Linked DNA regions of Homo sapiens. The protein of the gene in region 3 interacts with the protein of the main gene of each other region in a pairwise test. Each region holds a gene or a part of one and is shown on either strand. Other genes may lie near its edges.

Region 1 (6,277 bases), about 15 Mb from region 3:
TCACCATGTTGGCCAGGCTGGTTTTGAACTCCTGATCTCAAGTGATTCACCCTCCCTGGCCTCCCAAAGTGCTAGTATTACAGGCATGAGCCACCGTGCCCAGCCTTATTTCTTTTCTTAAGAAAAAATGTGGTTATTTGCTGCTTTCCTCCTCTTCTTTCTTTTTCTCTTCCACTTTCCCTTTCTTTTTTCTCTCTTTCTCTCTGTCTCTCCCTCTCTCCCTTTCTTGCTGTCCCCTTCCTGTTTGAGAATTTTTCTTCAATGTCCTGTAAATTTTTGTTCTCCCTTTGTGTCTAAACAAATGCTGAGACACTAAGAGAAACCCATGTGCCCGATCACTTGTCTTCACTGTGCGATAATTGGGCAGCATGTTGGCTTCTGTTTTTCCATGTATTTGCATGAGGAATAAGAGCATCCTGAAAATAGAAACTTTCCTATAAAATAGATGACCATGAGAATCAGGTTTTACTAGATGATGAGGTCTTATTTATATTCTAAACCATAGTAAAAACTCCCATTATGCACTAATACAGTTTGCATATTTGTCCCCTCCAAATCTCATGTTGAAATGTGATCCCCAGTGTTGGAGGTGGGCCTGGTGGAAGGGGTTTGGATCATGAGAGCAGATCCCTCTGAATGGCTTAGTGCCATCCTCATGGTAATGAGTGGGTTCTCTATCTCTAAGTTCACCTGAGATCTGGTTGTTTAAAAGAGTCTGGGACCTTCCCCTGCTGTCTCTTGCTCCCACTCTCACCATGTAACACCTTGGCTCCCCTTCGCCTTCTGTCATGAGTGGAAGCTTCCTAAGGCCCTCACCAGAAGCAGATGCCAGCACTATGCTTTGTGTATAGCCTGCAGAGCTGTGAACCAATTAATTCCTCTTTTCTAATTTACCCAGTTTTAGGTAATTCTTTATAAATGCAAAATGGACTAACACATGCACCAAGCCTGTAATTAACAGACTTGCTTCTTTGGTTACTCACATCTTCCCTAAAGGAGTGAGCTTTCTGGGACCATGTTATTGTTAAAGATACGGAGGCAAACAGTATAAGTGTACTGATGCTGCCAAAGTCACAGAGCTAGTAAATGAGAGAATCGACATTCATTCTTAGGTCACTAAGCTTCATATCTCCTTCCCTACAGACCCCATTAATAAATGGCCAAACCAATAGCTTCAGGGTCTCACAAGCCAATCAACATAGACAGCAGTGCCACTGAGTCTATGACCGGTTAGGATAATAGGGCCTCAAATACTCTTATGAATCTTATAGACTCATATAAACCTGGTGTCAACATCATGCCACTATTCTATTCTATCTCAATAAGGACTCACCCAAATCTCATCTTGAATTGTAGCTCCCATAATTCCCATGCGTTGTGGGAAGGATCCGGTGGGAGATAACTGAATCATGGGGCGGTTTCCCCCATACGGTGCTCATGGTAATGAATAAGTCTCATAAGATCTGATGGTTTTATAAGAGGTTTCCCCTTTTGCTTAGGTCTCATTCCCTCTCTTGCTTGCCACCACGTAAGATGTGGCTTTGCTCCTCCTTGCTTTCCACCATGATTGTGAGGCCTCCCCAGCCATGTGGAACTGTGAGTCCATTAAACTTCTTTCCTTTATAAATTACCCAGTTTCAGGTATGTCTTTATTAGCAGCATGAGAAACAGAAAGATGTCCCCAAGTTGCTAGGAAAACATATTGGTGCCCAATGTCATGGAGAGGTTGATGTTCCTCCTCCAGGGGCTGTAGGATGAGGCCACCAAAATAAGCTTATCCCATCTGTGGCTTAAAAACATGTCCTGCTCAGTGGAAGTTGGCACTGATTTTCTAGGAATGCAGAACACTCCCAGCAAGAGAGTGAGGAGTGGGTCTCGTGAGTCAAATGTTTAGCCTAAGCTCTTGATTCACAGGTCAAGCTTAGGAAAGAAGCTTACCTTTGGAATATACATATTTGCATTCTAATAAAACATTTTTAAATTTTTTTTTGTATTTTCGTAGGCTATTGGGGAACAAGTGGTGTTTGGTTACATGAGTAAGTTCTTTAGTGGTGATTTGTGAGATTTTGGTGCACCCACCAACCGAGCAGCATACACTGCACCATATTTGTAGTCTTTTATCCCTCACCCCCTTCCCACCCTTTCCCCCGAATCCCCAAAGTCCATTGTGTCATTCTTATGCCCTTACATCCTCATAGCTTAGCTCCCACTTATGAGTGTGAACATATGATGTTTGGTTTTCCATTCCTGAGTTACTTCACTTAGAATAATGGTCTCCAATCTAATCCAGGTTGTTACAAATATCATTAATTCATTTTTATGGCTGAGTGGCATTCCATCATATAATTTATATATATATAAATTATATATATATAAATTATAATATTTGTATTATATATAATTATATACAATATAATTTATATACATTATACATAAATTATTATATATATATACATATATATATATACACACACACACACACACACCACAGCTTATCCACTCAATTGATGGACATTTGGGTTGGTTCCACATTTTTACAATTGCGAATTGTACTGCTATAAACATACATGTGCAAGTATCTTTTTTGTATAATGACTTATTTTCCTCTGGGTAGATAGCCAGTAGTTGGATTGCTGGATCGAATGGTAGTTCTACTTATAGTTCTTGAAGGAATCTTTACACTGTTTTCCATAGTGGCTGTACTAGTTTACACTGCCACCAGCAGTGTAGAAGTGTTGCCTGTTCACTGCATCCACGCCAACATCTATTTTTTTTTATTTTTTTTATTATGGCCATTCTTGTGGTTTCGATTTGCATTTCCCTAATCATTTGTGATGTTGAGCATTTTTTCATGTTTGTTGGCCATTTGTATATCTTTTGAGAATTATCTATTCATGTCATTCATGTCCTTAGCCCACTTTTTGATGGAATTGTTTGGTTTTTTTCTTGCTAATTTGTTTGAGTTCGTTGCAGATTCTGGATATTAGTCATTTGTCAAATGTATAGATTGTGAAGATTTTCTTCTAGACTGTGGGTTGTCTAGAACTCTGCTGTTCCTTTTGCCATGCAAAATCTCTTTAGTTTAATAAAGTCCTAGCTATTTATCTTTGTTTTTATTGCATTTGCTTTTGGGTTCTTGGTCATTGTGTTGCTGTCTATCTCATTTCTTAGGTCTAGTGGATAAAAGGGCGTCCATTGTCTCCTAAAGTTTTTATTATTTTTTATTTATGCTCTCTATTTCACTGAAGATTTCTCCCCTCATTTCTTGTATCTTTTTTTTTAATTTCCTTAAATTGGGCTTCACTTTTCTCTGGTGCCTCCTTGATTAGCTTAATAACTGACCTTCAGAATTCTTTTTCAGGTATATCACGGATTTCTTCTTGGTTTGGATCCATTGCTGATGAACTAATGTGATTTTTTGGGGATGTTAAAGAACCTTGTGTTGTCATATTACCAGATTTGGTTTTCTGGTTCCTTCTCATTTGTGTAGGCTCTGTCAGAGGGACGGTCTAGGGCTCAAGGCTGTTGTTCAGATTCTTTTGTCCCACAGGTGTTCCCTTGATGTAGTACTCTCCTCATTTCCTTCCGAATTTTTTTAATGAAAGCCTTTTATCTGTTCCCTCTGCAGAAGGGCCAAGGCGTTATCGTCGGCCACGCACAAGATTTCTCTCCAAACAACTCACAGCATTGAGAGAATTGCTTGAAAAGACCATGCACCCAAGTTTGGCTACAATGGGGAAACTGGCTTCAAAGCTACAACTTGATCTATCCGTAGTAAAGGTCTGTTCCCAAGTGTGTCTGTAGGTAGCACGCCTAACCCAGAGCTTCACACACACTTTTGATCATTGTTATAACAGTTCCTATTTATTGGCAATTGCTATGTGTAAGGACAGATGTTAAGCACTTTATATTTTTATTGTCATGAGCACCCACTTTATTGAGGAACACTAAAGCTCACATAGAAGAGCTGTCTTCCAAGCATTATAAACACAAGAGTTGGAATTTGAACCCAGACCTTTCCAACTCCAGACCCACCATGCTACACAGGACTCTTTGAGGCTGGATCTCAGATACTCCCATTTGGGTCTGTTCTTGTGTATTCAGGATGGGTTCTGCTTAATCAGGACCATCACAGTCATCCAGATGCCTGTCACTAAGTTCCCACAAAGTATTCATGGGAGAACACCTGGATGAACCCTAAAGATGACCCAAGCTAAACTCTCACCCCATACTCTGACTTTAAAATACTTTCTCTGGGCACCAGGAATGGTGGCTCACACTTGTAATCCCAGCACTTTGGGAGGTGGAGGCAGGAGGATCGCTTAAGCCCAGTTTAAGACCAGCCTGGGCAACATAGCAAGACCATGTCTTTACAAACAAAAATTAAAAATTAACCAGACATGGAGGCACATGGCTGTAGTCCCAGCTACTTGGGAGACTGAGATAGGAGGATTGCTTAAGCCCAGGAGTTCAAGGCTGCAGCGAGCTATGATTGCAGCACTGCACTCCAGGCTGGGTGACAGAGTGGTAGCTTGTCTCAAAAAAAAAAAATACACCACTAATAAAAACACCCTTCTATTTAATACATCACAATCTAGGTCATATTCCACCCATTGCTAGTACAATCCTACACCCACTTTTCCCTTGAAACCCAGGACAGCAGAGAGTAGAAAGGGCTTCCCTTGTTCCAATAAATGTGAGACTCTCTCTCACACCAAAAAACCGAATTCCTGAGGAACATGAGGATGCCCCTTTATACTCAACATCCATTATTAACCTCCCCCCTCCTCCCTCCTTAGATCTGGTTCAAGAACCAGCGTGCCAAATGGAAGAGGCAGCAGCGGCAGCAAATGCAGACACGGCCATCACTAGGGCCAGCAAACCAGACAACTTCAGTGAAGAAGGAGGAGACTCCCTCAGCCATAACTACTGCAAACATTCGTCCAGTAAGTCCTGGAATCTCTGATGCAAATGACCATGATCTACGTGAGCCTTCTGGTATCAAGAATCCTGGAGGAGCCAGCGCCTCTGCGAGGGTTTCATCCTGGGATTCTCAGTCATATGACATTGAACAGATATGTCTGGGGGCTTCAAATCCTCCTTGGGCCTCCACTCTCTTTGAAATAGATGAATTTGTAAAGATCTATGACTTGCCAGGGGAAGATGACACCAGCAGCCTAAATCAATATCTTTTTCCAGTATGCCTTGAGTATGACCAGCTCCAATCTTCAGTGTAACTTCTTACACATCACTTCTAGGGGAGGTCTGGATCTGACCCACTGAGACATATTTCCACACATCTTTAATGGTTTGACCCCAGTCTAAGTAGATCAGGGGCTGGGAATTTATCTTTTTCTGTAGAAAAAACAATAAAGGAACTCCCCTACCTTTCATCATTGCCTGCATTTTCTGAACTCCATTTGAGTGCCTCCTCACCCAAATTTCAGCATTAAAGATTGTATTCAGAGAAGTGACGCCAGGAACACAGTGACATAGGAGGTTCCTGATTGATGGACTGAATAAACGTCTGTGCCTACATCAGTTCTCTCTGGAAGAAAGTCAGAAGTGAGTGGAGAGACTCCTACACACCAGGCAACTAAGAAAATGTCTTAGCAGGCCAGTCGCGGTGGCTCACGCCTGTAATTCCAGCACTTTGGGAGGCCAAGGTGGGTGGATCACGAGGTCAGGAGATCAAGACCATCCCGGCTAACATGGTGAAACGCTGTCTCTACTAAAAATACAAAAAATTAGCTGGGTGTGGTGGTGGGCACCTGTAGTCCCAGCTGCTTGGGAGGCTGAGGCAAGAGAATTGCTTGAACCCGGGAGGCGGAGGTTGCGTGAGCCAAGATTGCACCACTGCACTCCAGCCTGGGCGACAGAGTAAGACTCCATCTCAAAAAAAAAAAAAAAGAAAAGGAAGAAAAGACAAGAAAAAAAATGTCTTATCAAACAGGCAGCAAAAGCTGAAGCACTCAGAAACACTAAACCCACCCTGGGCACTGAGCCATACAATCAGGAAGGAATCCCCAGTTCCCAGCTTCTCCCCCAGGAGAGAAGCAGTGAACCACACATATAGCACCCTAACAGTTGATGGTTAAGTTCCTAACGAGCCTGCATCAGGGAGTTGACTAGGTAGGTAAACTACAGACTTACAAGAGCCTGAACAGAAGCTAGGTGCCACCCAAAGCTTCACCCCAGCTCAGCCCAGCAATAAATCCAGGTCTATCAATTCCTCCTGGAAGAAGTTTGTCCACACATTGAGCACCCCAACTTTTAT
Region 2 (8,339 bases), on a different chromosome or scaffold from region 3:
GGCCCACACCTCTGAGGAAGGGCCCTGAGGGTGAAACCACTAGGAGTGGGGAGAGGGGAGGGAACTTGGGAGGGCGTGCTCTTGGCTAGACTGATGGCATTCTCTGACATAAAGGTTAACTTCCAGTAGGCCCCTGCTAAGCTTGGACAGACAGCTGGAATCTGAGCTCCTTGAGGGCAAGATTGGGATCTTTTCTTTGTATCCCCAGTCTTATCTAGTGCTAGATAGTTTTAGTGAATACTTCTTAATTGAATTTCATTGGTTGTATGTCACATTCTTCCTAGTTTGTCAAATAAGTTTGGTAAATGCTTTAATACAATCCCTTTTCCCTGATGTCCTCATTTGAAAGTTGTGAAGATGGCAGTCATATCCTAAAATTTATCTTCATATGGTTAAAGATGGTTTTTTAGCCACCCTGCAGTCTTAGTCTTGGTGAAAAGAGCATGGACTAGGAGTCAGAAGTTTTGGATTGTTGTTATAGCTGTGTTGTTAGTTTGTGTCACCATAGACTTTCATGTTCTTATCCATACTCTGTGAGCATAAAAATTTCTGCCTTATCTATTATATTATGCCCAATGATTGTGAAGAGAAAACAAAAGGTCGTGTGTAGTGGACAGGTGAGGAGCTATTGCCCCTCTGTATACACAGTGAATTCTCAGGAAACATGGACAGTAGACTCTCTAGGGCTAACAGTGAGTTGACTCTGGACTGCTATGTGGTTTGGGGCTGGGGAGTTGGATGTGATTTGGAAAATCAAGTGTGTAAAAATTGACATGAAATCCTGAGTTCAAAATAAATTTATTGAAATGTTCAACACAGACATGTGCTTTCAGAGAGAATAGAAACCCTTTTTCACAGTTTATATACCTCAAGATAGAAGGCTAACTAGTTGAAGTGTCCTCAGAGCCAATGATCAGTCCTTAAAAAGCTCCCACACATCCCGGACTTAACAGACTCCCAGAACTGGCTGGGACTCCAGGAGGTCATGTAGTCCATCCCGCTGCCTCTAGGCAGGTAAGAGAAGAGCAATATCTTAGAATTTGTGGTAATAAATTTGCTGACCTTTCTTTGTTAAGAGTTTCTCCTGTTCTTGAAGCTGTAAGGATTGATTTTGAAGCAAACCTGTTGGAAAACACAAGGAACTTGTCTATGCTAGCATATTTACTACAAAAAGTTTTCTTTTCAGAACTTTGCTTAGAACCTTGGTTATTAAATATGTTCCCATCTGCTGTGTGTTGAATTTTGTCCCCCAGAATATATATGTTGAAGTCCTAACCCTCAGTACCTTAAATAATGACCTTATTTGGAGATAGATTCTTTAAAAGATAATCAAGTTAAAATGGGGTCATTCAGGTGGGCCCCAATCTAATATCACTGGTGTCCTTATAAGAAGGGGAAATATGGACACAGATATGTTCATGGGAAAGACAATGTGAAGAGACACAGAGAGAAGACGGCCATCTACAAAGCCAAGGAAAGAGCCCTGGGATAGATCTTTCCCTAAACGCCCTCAGAAGGAAACAACCCTGCTGACATCTTGGATTTCTAGTCTCCAGAACTGTGAGACAATACATTTCTGTTCTTCAAGGCACCCAGTCTGTGGTACTTTGCTATGAATATAGCATCCTTATATCTCCCCCTACCATGTCTCTATCTTCAAGTCTTTGCTTGAAGATTTTCCCTTTTCCCTGTGGTTGCTTTGCTCTCTTAATAATCATTGCTGCTTTCATGAAGCTTCTCTATCAGGTGTCAGAGGTTAAAGTGGTGGGCAACCAGCAGCTGTATTAATTGAGTCAGGTTCTCCAGCTTTTCAGAAACTGCTTTTCTTCTGAGAAGTCCCTTTTCCTCTTTGGGCCCAATATGTAGTTTTGAAGTGGATTGAGGCACGTATAGTGTAAGCTTATTTTCTAAACCATCTCTAATGACAGGTCTATGTGACACATTCATGTACATAAATTAGAATATATAAAATAAGAACTGCTTTAGGAAACCCAGTATTTAAAAAAAATCTGCAGTTCTAGGGGAAATGTAAGTGGTGTCATTGGCATGGAAGGAGAACAGTAGAAAAAAAAGAACAGAGGCTAACACATAATTTATGGAGAGCTATGTAAATGACCTCACTTTACAAGAAGAGGGTCTGAAAGTGCACAGAGTTAGAGCATATGCCAAAGACTGGGCCCTTAGTCCCTACTCTGGGTGCCTTTTGTGGGCCAGGACCCCAGGAAAACCCTGTGGACTTTCAGAATCTGGAAAGCGAACTTACCCTGCAACTGCTGTACTCTGGTCACCAGGGTGAGTTTCTCTGCCTCTGACCTTTTTAGTTGATCTGAAAATGCAATAATGCAAGCCAAAATAAAGGAACCCAAGACTTAATGAACTCAGTACTTAGGATGGAAATTAGTAATAGATGCTGTCTTGTCATGGTCTTTAACGTGTGTCTATTGGAAGTTGCTCTATCTTCGTGTCCCAGTTCTGAAGAGGTAAACCAGAAGCCAAGTACCTCAGGTTTTTGTGCATCAACAATGTTGGGTTGCATTGAGGCTTGTGTTTACACACTATCTAGTCCTCTCTATCAGCGGACACAGAGGATGTGACTGAGAGACTTTCTCTATGCCTTGTGTTTCAACTGACCTTTCCCTTTCAAATTAGGACTGTGGCCTTGACATATGTGACTGATGTGGGAGCAGCTGTGATCTGGCCCAGAGGGATGGGCTAAAAAAGAGAGCTCAGACAACAAGATACTCTATCTACTACAGTGAAATTAATTTTCAATTTTGGATGATTAAAACAGTCCTGCCTCTCCCTCAAGGTAAAATGAGATTATAAAGCCAATCAACCAATCAAGCAAACAAATAAAAGGCTGAAGCCTTTCTCTTAATTCAGTTTCTTTTTTCTTAGCTCACTTGGCCATGGCTGCCATGCACTCAAGGCCTCCAAGGAGAAGAGTACCTTGTAGGTCCTGGGTATCCAAGCTGCACAGGTCTCTGTCCCCTTGCAGGCATTCAATCTTGGCCTGCAGTTGCTGGTGCTCATTTTCCAAAAATCGCAGGGCCTGGTTCATCTGTAAGTCCCTGCTATCTGCTCCCTGTAAGGAGGAGGAAGGGCCAATATAGAAGGAGGTCAGTGTTGGGGTGGAGGTTGGGGGGCGGGTACCATGGAAGAGGAAAATGTAGAAAAGTCTGGAATTTTAGAGATAGAAGGAATGTTAGGGAGATGAGAAAATAGAGAAGTCTTTCTTTTTTCCTATTTCTTCCCTTTGCTTTGTTCCTCATATTTATAACAGCAGATTAGACTTTTGATATTCACAAGGAACTCGCGTCTTTTATTTATTTATTTTTATTTTTAGAGATGGGGTCTCACTTTGTCACCCAGACTGGAGTGCAGTGGTGCCATCATAGCACATTGCAGCCTCGACCTCTTGGGCTCAAGCAATCCTCCCATCTTAGCCTTCTGAGTAGCTGGGACTACAGGCATTTGCCAGTAGTTTTGAAGTGGACTGAGGCATGTGCAGTGTAAGTTTATTTTCTAAACCATCCCTAGTGACAGGTCTAAGTGACACATTCATGTACATAAATTAGAATATATAAAATAAGAATTGCTTTAGGAAACCCAGTACGTTAAAAAATCTGCCATTCTAGGGGAAATGTAAGTGGTTGTCATTGGTGTGGGAGTCATGTCTTGACACTTTGGTAAATCACCAAATTAAGGAATACAAAGTCATTAGTTTTCTGGATGTTTTCATTTTCTCTTTTTTCTACTTCTGGCAGTATCAGTTTTTTTTTTGGTTAGGGTCTTTTTTTTTCCACAAAGATTTAAAGTTAAAAAACCCCTCACAAAAATCTTCATAGGAGTTGCCTTATAGGTGATGGGAAGAAGAAAACAACAAAGGTTGAGCTGTGGATACCACGCAGAGTGACCAGCTGGGTTCACTCCTTTGATAAGACTCACATACTCTGTCTCTTATCAAGTGGGCTGTTCTGAGCCCTGCTTCAGGAAAATTACAAAGATCAGCTTTTGAGGTGGATCCTCAAAATTCCAAACCAGGTAAATAAATCTATGCAAAATAATAGCTAATATTTACTGAGTGTTTTTGTGTGCCAGGCATTGTGCTAAGTGCTTTACATGGATCATCTTACTTAATACTCAGAACCACCTTATGATGTAGGTACTATTATCCTCATTTTAGAGATGGGGAAACTGAGGCTTAGGACAGATTGAAGATGATGGAACCCTTGAGGATGCCAAGAATCTAATTGTAATTGCTAAATGTAATTGCTTAAAATACACATTGGCAGAAAGTGTTAATACTCACCTGTAAATAAATTAGTGACATTCTTTCTTTGCCAACAGTGGGCAATTCTGAACTGGATGCTTTTTTGGGATGGAGTTTGGAGAGTGGGTTGGGAGATGACATTAGTAGGCTGATGAATATTCCAGCCAGTTCTTTTCATTTGGGTGGTGATGGTGTCATTCCAATGAACGCTTAGTTCATTTGCATGAGCAATGCAGACATCCTTGCTAAACTCAAAATTAGATTTCAGAGCCAAAACAGTGAATTTGGTACAAAGTAGTGGTGACTGAGGAACTGAAAGCCAGATGCTGTCAGCTGCCTTTGGAGTCCCTAATCCAGAACAGCTTCTTTCATCACCATCCCTCCTCCCCATACCCTGTCTTCCCTCCCCACCCCCAGTGCCTGGTACCTGCAGTTTGGACTGAAGCACGTGGAGTTGGCTCTCCAGCTCCCTGTGCTGGGTCCCAAGGGTCCTCCAGTCCTCCTTCAGAGCCTCATACTGGCTCCTCCACTCTTCACACTTCTGCTCTGCCAGGGCCAGGGATCGCTGAGGGAGATCAGAGAGGAGAGGGCTCCAGGGAGTTGTGCAGCTGGCTCCCCTTGTTCCCCAAGCTGCCTGGAGTCCCCAGCCCCATGTCTATGTGGCATCCCCATACCTGTGTGCTCTGTAGTTGCTGCTCTGCATTCATTTTCTCCTCCAGCACTTTCTGCAGTGACTCCTTGGCCTTCTGCTCATAGCTGTTTTTCTGGTCTTCCATCTCCAGTAGTACTTTTTTCATTCCCCAAGGGGAGTATTTCTGTAAATTTGATGCAATTCAACAAATACACATTGAGCTTCTGTGTGCCAAATCCTGAGCTGGGATACAGAAATGAAAAGAAGTTGGTTCTTCCCCCAGGCAGAGATACCAGTAATCTAGTGAGCCATTTCTTTTAGGGTAGAGCTAGCAAGAAGAGTCCCTCAGGCAATGAGAGATGAGTGGAGGGCATAATAAACAGTGCCCTAGGCTTCCTGGGCATTATATCTGAGGCCTTCTGCAAGCTCTTGGAATCCAAGATGTCTAAACAGGACTCATCTTTCTAAACATGTTCTTTTTTCTTGGGGTTCCTATCTCAGTGACCAGAATCATCATCCATCCAGGCTTTTCCAAACCCTAAACCAGGGAGTCAATCTTCATTTTCTCTCTCACTTCCTCCCCCTCTAATCAGTTGGTCATTGAGCCTTGACAATTTCCTTAACAGCTCATATCTGTCTCCTCTCTATCCCTACTGCTGCTTCCTTAGTTCAGGCTCTAGTAGTAGTGTTATGTGGATTAATGCAACAGCCTCCCTTTCTTCAAATCTTGCCTCCCTTCAGTCCCTTTTCAGTTCTGCATTTAGAGGGTTCTTTCTAAAATGCAAATCTGATCTTGCCACTTCCTGTATAAATCTCTCCATGGATTCTCAGCATACTAAGAATCACATCCAAACTCCTTGTCATGGCTCCTCTTACACGCCTAGACTTTCATCCCATGCTACTTCCACCTAAGCTGAGATGTTTGCAGATCCCCCAGCACTCTGTTTTTTGGGGCTCTGCCTTTACCCATGTAGCTTCTTCTGCCTACAGCCAGTTAACTTCTACTAATACTCAAGATTCAGTCCAGTATCATCAGTTCTGATAAATTGACCAACTACCCCCATCCCACAATGTCTTATGGATTAGGTAGCTTTTCTTAGGGTTCATGGTGTTCACATAGTATCCCCTGCATGCCTCTATTATTCTACTCTATTGACTCATCTGTCTTTCATACTGGATTGTAAACTCCTTCAGGGAGGGAGCATACTGCTGCTGCTTTAAAAAAAAATCATTGTAGCTTCTTTACAATGCCTAATGAACTTCATGTTTTAAAATTAATACATTTGCATTATAAAATTCCTCCTGGCTGCAGGATTAAGGAGACACAAGCGCAGCTTTGCAAATTCACTGGGGGTCTTGCCTTCTCCCTTTCTTTCATCTTTATGCCCTGTGATTTCGGAGAAGGCAGGCAGATTTTATTGTCAATTCTGGATTACCTACTGTGTAAGCAGTAGACCAGATGACAACAATTTAGGGATCAATATGAAATCATTTCCATTTAGCTTTGGAATTGTCTGAAATTTTGGATTTAAATTTGAGTGGGTCTTATAGTTTTGGAACTTTCATTAAAAACCAGATCCAGGAATTAACCTGGTTGAGGTCATATGTAGGGGATGTCCCAGTTATTGGACATCCAATGACCATCCATGCTGGGCACTGGTTATGTGTTATTCCCTATTGAAAATGAATAGACTGGCATTCTGGATTATATATTAGTCTCCTGTGAACTTGGTTGGCATTATTTAGTCCTGACAAAGCAAGTTATACTGAAAAAATGAAAGTTGTGGACCAAGAAACTTATAGACTCCATAAACTCTCTTCCCCTGTAAGACGCCATCAATGTGGCCAGGACTGTCTTCTCTCTCTAACTCCAGATGGGAGAATTCTGCCTGTTTCACCCCATTCTCTGATTTGATATCTTCCCACCTGTCAGGTATCCATCACTTCTCAAATGTGAAAGCTGATTTCTTTCTATCTCTTATAAACCAAGATTAGGCCAATCAAGAGATTACTAATGCTGGAAAATGGTGTTACAGAAGAGCCAAGTAAAAGAGCTTTTACATTCTTCCAGGGGTTGCTAGAAAAAACAGAAAAAAGTTACCCATGGAATGAAAATAATTTTGTAAGACTTCATTATAACATCTAACTCATCTGTTCAAAGATTAGGATGCGTAAAGGGCTGTCTGGGTGATGTGAGTCTTTACCAAGGGCCTTCCCCTACAGTGTCAGGTATTCTCAAGGTTCCCCTGGAGCTGACAAACTGGTTAGTGCTGGGATTCCTCCAGGGTGCAAAGAGAAGGATACTGGGAGAAAGGGAGAGGAAGAAGGATGGAGACAGTGATCTAGTGAATTAGAGACTAAAGTGTAAATGGCCAAGCCAGAAATGGGTAAGTAGGAATGGGTGTGTTATTCTCTATCTGGTGGTGTTTCTCGAAAGTAAGATTGAGGTTCAAAAACATTCTTCTCATTTAATTCTAGATTCCTGAGATGGAAGTATCCTTCAGAATGCTTACCTGGGTACAGGTGTATAGCTGGTTTTCTAAGGATCTCAGTTTCCCCTTCAGTTTGTCTTCATTAAGCTGTCCCTGGAGCAAATGGGATGAGTTAATGAGCTTGGGGCAAAATCTAGTCTGCAAAGAGTTTGACTCTATATTCCTATTCTACTGCCCAGCACATGGTTGGTGCTCAAACAGTGAACTCTTTCAGGAGGCAGGCAGGAGCAAAGATGACAAAGGATGCTGGATAGAAGAGGATCTTCTCCTGTTTCTCTGGACTAGGACAAGAAAGAATAAGACTGGCCTCAAGTCCTCTTTTTACCTCGATTTTTATCAAATGGCTCAGGGTAGCATAGCAGGGGGGCCCCGGAAGGAAAGCTTCTAAGCTACCCTTTCGCTCACTATCTCCCTCCCCTGTCTAGGCACTTCTGCACTCCTCACCTCTTCTCAGTCTTGTACGTGGACTTTTCCCTGTAAAATGTAGGCCAGTGAGGCTAACGCAGTCTCCCCTCCCGGGAGAATGTTTATTCCCTCCCTTGCCCTCGGTTATGAGCTCATTTATATCTCCTCAACATTTCTATGTTGAAGTCCTAAGCCCCGAGTGCCCCAGAATGTGACCATATTTGGAGAAAGGGTCTTTAAAGATGTAGTTAAGTTAAAATGAGGCCATTAAGCTGGCCCTAATCCAATATGATGGATGTCCTTATTAAAAGAGGAGATCAGGGCACTGCAGGAAGGCCATGTGGAGACACAGAGAGAGATGGCAATCTGTAAGCCAGGAAGAGAGACCGCAGGAGAAACGAACTCTGCTGACACCTCGATCTCAGACTTTTAGCCTCCAGAACTATGAGAAAATAAGTTTGTTTTTGAAGTTCCCCTGACTGTGGTACTTTGTCATAGCAGCCCTAGGAGATTAATACACTCCCCTCCCTGCCACACA
Region 3 (6,379 bases):
ACTGAGATGAGGGGATTGAGAGCAGCCTGGCCAACATAGTGAAACCGTGTCTCTGCTAAAAATCCAAAAATTAGCCATGCCTGGTGGCAGGCACCTGTAACGCCAGCTACTCAAGAGGCTGAGGCACGAGAATCGCTTGAACCTGGGAGGCGGAGGTTGCAGTGAGCTGAGATTGTGTCACTGCAGTCCAGCCTGGGCGACAGAGCAAGACTCCGCCTCAAGAAAAAAAAAAGCAAATAGCCTATAATAACAAATTAGAGGGCTCTGGCTACTAAATTTAAAGGGTTCTATAAGGCTACATAAAGTGTAGCATCATCAAGTGTGTGGACACAGACAGCCCCTTAGCAGAAACTGTCTAAAATACATCCATGTACACACAGTCCCTTTAGAGTTGACAAAGGCTGCCGTGTGGTTTAAGGTGGCATAGAATGTCTTCTCAATAAATAATATTAAACCAATGGGTTACACCTAGTAAAAAATAAATCTAACTCACACTATAAAAACACTTCTTAGTTTTTATCTAGTTGTACATTTTTTGATTTATATTTAAATTTGAGAAATAAAAGTCATATACGGTCATCCTTCACTATTCGTGGGTGATTGGTTTCGAGATCTCCACTCAGATACCAAAATCTGTAGATGCTCAAGCCTCTTATATGAAATGGCACAGCGCTTGCAAATAACATATGCACATCCTCCTGTATACATGAAATCATCTCTTGATTACTTATAATTCCTGATACAGCCTACACACAGCTTCATTTGTGTCCATTCAACATAGTTATGAGTTTTGGAACTCTGTGGATATTTTCTCTGAATATTTTTGATTTATACTTTGTTCAATAAAGACCTGTAAACCCCACAGATACGGAGGAGTGACCGTATATTTATAGTATGAAAGATGATGTGTTGATATGTGTCCCCATGGAGATGAGACTAACAAGGCCTATGACTCTACAAATGTTTCATCGTGGAATGACTCTGCCAGCTTTCCAGGTCTGCAGAGAGTAACAATGTCACTTGTTCATGTGATTCCCGATCCTTGGAACCTCCTATGTGCTGCATCTTTGGATGGAAATTGGAGTCCCAGAGACAAATGAGGCTCCACACTGCTTCCAGAAGCTCAGAGTCCAGAGGTGAGAACCCGGTGGAGAACAGATGGGATTATATGGACATGGTACTGATAACACCGGAAGCCTTAGGCAAGAAAAGAGTCCCATTACCTAAACCATGAGGGCAGACATGTTTATTTGAAGGAGGGAAAACTACATTGAAATTATTTTAAAAAATATATAAGTTTTACTGCTGACAGAAGGCTGAAAGCTAGTCTGAGGGGAGGTGGAACAGCATGAGGGAAGGTGGAACAGCACGTGTCTAAGTGCCGTGTTAAGAGGGAGCCTCTTGTATGTTTGGAATTGTGAGTTCCTCAGTGTGATTGCAGCCTCAAGTAGACTAGGAAGTAAGCCAGTTAGGTTGGAGAGGTGGGCAGGGGTCAAGTGAAATGGAGAATTGTGGGCTAAGCAAAGGAGTGTGTTTTCTCTCCAGCAGGCAGTGGGGACCTTAGACATTTGTAAGCAAGGGAGAGGCACGTTCAGATTTGTGGTGTGAGGAAGAGCGATGCCCTAAGATGCAGACTCACGCCTTCAGATTCCAGCTGCTGGTACATTGGAGCTGGCAACCCAGTTTTGAGACAGGGCTGTTGTCTCCCTAGAAGATCCCCTCAAGGCCTGACTGTGGTGCTCATGGGCAGGAGACAACTTTGGATCAGGGCTCAGCATTTGGAAGTTCCGTGTACACGATGATATCTGTTGGGGGTGTCTTGGGCCTCTGAGAAGGGCGAGTGATTTTTCTCTGTGTGAAAACGCAGTGATTCAACTGTGCATATGTCACCTCCTGAGGGTCTTGTTCATCAGAGTCCTGGAGAGAGGGAAATGCTGAGTGAGGGAGGGTGCTCACATTTTCCAGGACTCTTTGGGAATAACACTAGCCACGAGGCTGGGCCGAGGAGCACCTACCTCCCTGTTCACTGTTCTGTTCCCTGCAGGCTCTTGGTCCATTACAACAGCATCTGTAGAAGACGGAAGTCAACAAAACAGCTCAGAGGGCACTTCTGGGCCCTCATTTCATAAGCAGATACCAACATACAGGGGGAGACCATAGGAGCCTGAGGTCCCTCAGTTGCCAACAGCAGACTCAGACATTCTATCTCTCTGAGCTCAAGGACCCATCCCATGAATAGCTCTGAGTTCCCATCCCATTGATTCTGTCTCCCACTTTCTGCCTGTCATGGAACCTTCTCCTGGATGTGAGTGGCTGCAGGGGACATGAGGATACAGTTCAGAATCAGGCAATGGTCTGTGAGCTGAAGGCAGGGACAGGGAGTCTGGTGCTCTCTCTAGAAAGTCCTCCCTCTGTGGCTGCTGCCTTGGGCCAGGGACCATCCTGTCTGTGAGGAACACACACCTGAGTGCTCCCATCCTGCTTCCCCACATGGCCCTGAGCTCTCTGGCCTCTGCTTCGTGAGACTTACTTTTTTTGTTGCAGCACCAGCGATGAAGGAGAAAGAAGAGGAGGAGGATGAAGAGGATGATGACCACTGAGGTCCCAATCAGAACATGCAGGTGTCTGGGGTTACCTGGAAGAAGAGGAGACACCAATAAGAAGCTAATCATAGCAGTTCCTCTTTATGAATTGTCTCACATTTCTTGATTGACAGGTAACCACATACAACACCCCTTTAGGACAAGCACCCAGATGGAGGGAGACCCAGCTTTCTCCTGCTTTCTCAGTTATAGCTCTCATAGTAACCATAGAACGTGTTGAGGATACAACTACTTTAGTTGAGATGTTTGACCCCTTCAAACCTCACATTGAAATTTCACCCCCACTGTGGGAGGTTGGGCCTCTTGAGAGGTGTTTGGGTCATGGAGGTGGATCCATCATGAACAGACCAATGCTGTCCCAAGGAGACGGGGTTAGCAAGTTCCCCTTCTATTAGTTCCTGGAGAGCTGGTTGTTCAAAAGAGCTTGGAAGCTCCATCGCTCCCCCTCCCCCTTGCTCCCTCTCTTGCCGTGTGATCTCTGTGGTCTCTGCACAGACAGACCCTCCTTCCCTTCTGCCAGAGTGGGAGCAGCCTGAGGCCGTCACGAGAAATAGATGCTGGTGCCACGCTTCCAGTACAGCCTGCAGAACTGTGAGGCAAACCAATCTCTTTTCTCTAGAAGTTACCCAGGCTCAAGTGTTCCTTTAGAGCAACAAAAATGGACTAAGACAGCAACGTCCTGAGATCAGGAGGAACGTCTCAGAACAGCCTGGGCTGTCTTCCTGTTCTTCCTGGAGGAGGACGTCATGCAGTGCTTTAGCTGAGTGCTTCCTGTGGCTCCACAGTACAAAACCCAGGCTGGGCTGCTCTCTGGCTTCCCCCAGCTACACTGCAAATGGGGTGACTCCATATGTCCCGAGTAGCTTTTCTGAGCCTTGAGGGACTGGCTCACATTGAAATGTAGGTTTCTGTTGTCACTCGCTGCTTATCTGTTAGTAATGAACCTGCCTGTGTAATGTATTCTCTGTGTGTTCTGTCTCCCTGGAGTGACGGTGAGTGATAGGAATTGGCATAAGCCCAGGTGCAGTCCAGGAGGTATTTAGAGTCTTCTCTGGGAAGACTGCACTGGGATTGATACACAGCGAATGTGCTTTAGGATTTCTACATCCACAGCATTCTTGAATCAAACAACTTGCATTCTCCAAGAAAAGGAAACAAAAGTGAAATCAAGATAAAAAAAGCTAAGTAGAATTCTCTTATGTCAAATGGCCAGGAAATAGTGTTGAAGCCCGTGTGAAACGTGCTACTCTTTGTGATCTCGGGAGACACATGTTAGGCTGCTGTTCTACCCGAGAGGCTGGGGGAAGGACCACCCCCTCGGCCATCTATTGCTTCAATACCACCTGTCCTCCTGTGAATTAGTAGGAAAGGGGAGCAGGAGCTAGTGCTGGCACTGATCTCTGATTCCAAGATCTGGACTCACTCCAAGGAGTATCAATGTTTACCTCCCCATAGCCTATCTGAATCTCCACAGGTGATTGGAAGTAGGGGTGAGGTGGGGGATTTGGGTGAGTGGGCAAGTTTTTTGTTGCGATGAACAGAGCACTTTCTCTATTCCACGATCTGTGCTGGAGGATTCTGAGGGCTTTCACATTTTCTATGTGATCTCATTCTCACAGAAAGCCAAATAGGGAAGAGGTTTTAAGCTCATTGCCTAATGGATAAGATAAAGGATCAAAGAAGTAATTATAGAGAAATAGAAAAACGATGATTGGAATTCAGGTGCCTTTGTCATTCGTGTGTGTTTTATTATATTTATGTATTTCTTATTTTTATTTTTTGAGATAGAGTCTCCTTGTGTCCCCCAGGCTGGAGTGCAGTGATGCAATCTCCACTCACTGCAACCTCCACCTACTGGGTTGAAGTCATTCTCCTGCTTCATCCTCCAGAATAGGAGCTGGGATTACAGGGATGCACCATCGTGCTCGGCTAATTTTTGTATTTTTAGTAGAGATAGGGTTTCACCACGTTGGCCAGGCTGGTCTGGAACTCCTGACTTCATGGAATCCACCCACCTTGGCCTCCTGCAGTGCTAGGTTACAGGCGTGAGCCACTGTTCACAGACTTGTATATTATGCTATAATAAGTCTCTTCATTTCCACCACCACTCATATATCTGTCACTCCTTTGCCAGGTATTGATTTATGTGTAGGATGAATAAATCTCAGAAAGAAATTAATTAAGCGAGGATTAAACAAGTAGGAAAATCAAACCCAGTAAGCGTTTCCAGTCAATGATTCTACCTCACAAACATATCTTATATCCATCTACTTCATTCATTTAGTGTCTAAATCAGCACCACATTTCACCAGTGGGGTGGCAATTGCCTTTTCCACGGTCTCCTAGATTCCAGTTATGCAACTGAGCCTCCCTTATTTTCATGTCAGTCATATTAATCATGTAGGGATTCCTGGTTACCCCGAGGTGAATCCAATGGCTGTGAGTGTCAAACACACACTCCTTGTTGCTCCTTAGTTTCCTGTGTACCCAGTGTGCTCTCCGTCTCTCTACAGTCGTCTTGTCATTCTCCCCACATCATTCCCAGCATTTGAGGCAGAGCCTCTTCCTTCCACATCAGATTGTTTTCACCTTTGTGCCTTCACGGCTGACAGCTGTGTGTGCAAAATCCTTCCGCCAATCTTTCAGGGGTTCAATCCGTGTTTTTCATTAATGTCACAAATATCTGAATAGTGAGACCTTCTTTGTCACCTGAAATCATACACTCAGCATTATCTATTATTGATTTTGAATTCTGGCTGGGCACAGTGGCTCACGCCTGTAGTCCCATTACTTTGGCATGCTGAGACGGTCGGATCACTTGAGGTTGGGAGTTTCAGACAAGCTTGGCCAACGTGGTGAAACATCCTCTCTACAAAAAATATACAAAAAGAATTAGCCGGGCACGGTGGCAGTTGCCTGTAATCCCAGCTACTCGAGAGGCGGAGGCAGGAGAATCACTTGAATCCAGGAGACGCAGGTTGCAGTGAGCCAAGATCGTGACACTGCACTGTAGCCTGGAAGACAGAGGGCGACTCTGTCTCAATAAACAAAAGAACAAACAAAAAATAGATTTCATGCACAGATGCTTCCCAATGGATCATTCATTTATAGATCCACTTGTGCATTCATTTTCTGCCCTCCCATTTAACCATCTGCAATATCAGTGTCCCAAGGGCAGAAGCCAAATGCATCTTGTTCACCGTTTGTGGAAGGCAGGAGAATGCTGTCCCACCCCAAAATGTCCCTGTCCTAGCCTCCATAGCTTGTGAATATGTTATTTTACATGGAAAGGAGGAATGAAGATTGTAGATGGAATTGCGGTTGCTAATCAGCTGAACTTAAAACAAGGGTATCCTGGATGATTTCCAGGAGATTATGAGGGATTTTCATCTTGGTGAACCCAATAGAATCCCCAAGTTTTCAAAAGATAAGGAAGAAGGGAGAGCAGCATTCAGAGAAAGAGGTGTGGTAAGGAAGAAGGCACTGAGTGATGCCATGTGAGATGTGACCAGTCTTTGTGGGCTTTGAGGAAGGAGGAAGGGGAACAGGAGCCAAGGAACTGGGAGCCTTTAGAAGCTGGGATAAGTGAGAAGCAGATTCTTGCCTGGAATCCTCAGAGGGAAGGCAGCCTTGCTGTCACCTTGATTTTAGCCCAGTAAGATGCACTTCCTACTTTGAGCTACAGCACTGTAAGATAATTAAAAAACCGTTTTGTTTTCACCCACGAATCTTGTGGAAATTTGTTATGGCAACAATAGGAAAAGGTTCCGCACTGC

What was found. The genes of interacting proteins can lie anywhere in the genome.
Region 1: the proteins of KIR2DL3 (region 3) and LEUTX interact in binary tests that used the Homo sapiens proteins (3 or more experiments, as listed by UniProt).
Region 2: the proteins of KIR2DL3 (region 3) and TRAF3IP3 interact in binary tests that used the Homo sapiens proteins (3 or more experiments, as listed by UniProt).

The regions. Positions count from the first base shown.
Region 1 is NC_000019.10:39,780,899-39,787,175, forward strand, and holds the end of LEUTX (paired-like homeodomain transcription factor LEUTX), read left to right. Parts: intron 1-3,628; coding exon 3,629-3,780; intron 3,781-4,799; coding exon 4,800-5,237; 3' UTR 5,238-5,393; downstream 5,394-6,277.
Region 2 is NC_000001.11:209,772,098-209,780,436, reverse strand, and holds part of TRAF3IP3 (TRAF3-interacting JNK-activating modulator), read right to left. Parts: intron 7,490-8,339; coding exon 7,418-7,489; intron 5,148-7,417; coding exon of another isoform or gene 5,089-5,147; coding exon 4,948-5,088; intron 4,864-4,947; coding exon of another isoform or gene 4,849-4,863; exon of another isoform or gene 4,839-4,848; coding exon 4,701-4,838; coding exon of another isoform or gene 4,313-4,700; intron 3,086-4,312; coding exon 2,950-3,085; intron 2,327-2,949; coding exon 2,264-2,326; intron 1,230-2,263; exon of another isoform or gene 1,123-1,229; coding exon 1,063-1,122; coding exon of another isoform or gene 1,034-1,062; exon of another isoform or gene 1,007-1,033; coding exon of another isoform or gene 984-1,006; exon of another isoform or gene 1-983. UniProt on the Homo sapiens protein: Adapter protein that plays essential roles in both innate and adaptive immunity. Plays a crucial role in the regulation of thymocyte development.
Region 3 is NC_000019.10:54,747,905-54,754,283, reverse strand, and holds the end of KIR2DL3 (killer cell immunoglobulin-like receptor 2DL3 precursor), read right to left. Parts: intron 2,636-6,379; coding exon 2,531-2,635; intron 2,069-2,530; coding exon 2,016-2,068; intron 1,918-2,015; coding exon 1,765-1,917; 3' UTR 1,232-1,764; downstream 1-1,231. UniProt on the Homo sapiens protein: Receptor on natural killer (NK) cells for HLA-C alleles (HLA-Cw1, HLA-Cw3 and HLA-Cw7). Inhibits the activity of NK cells thus preventing cell lysis.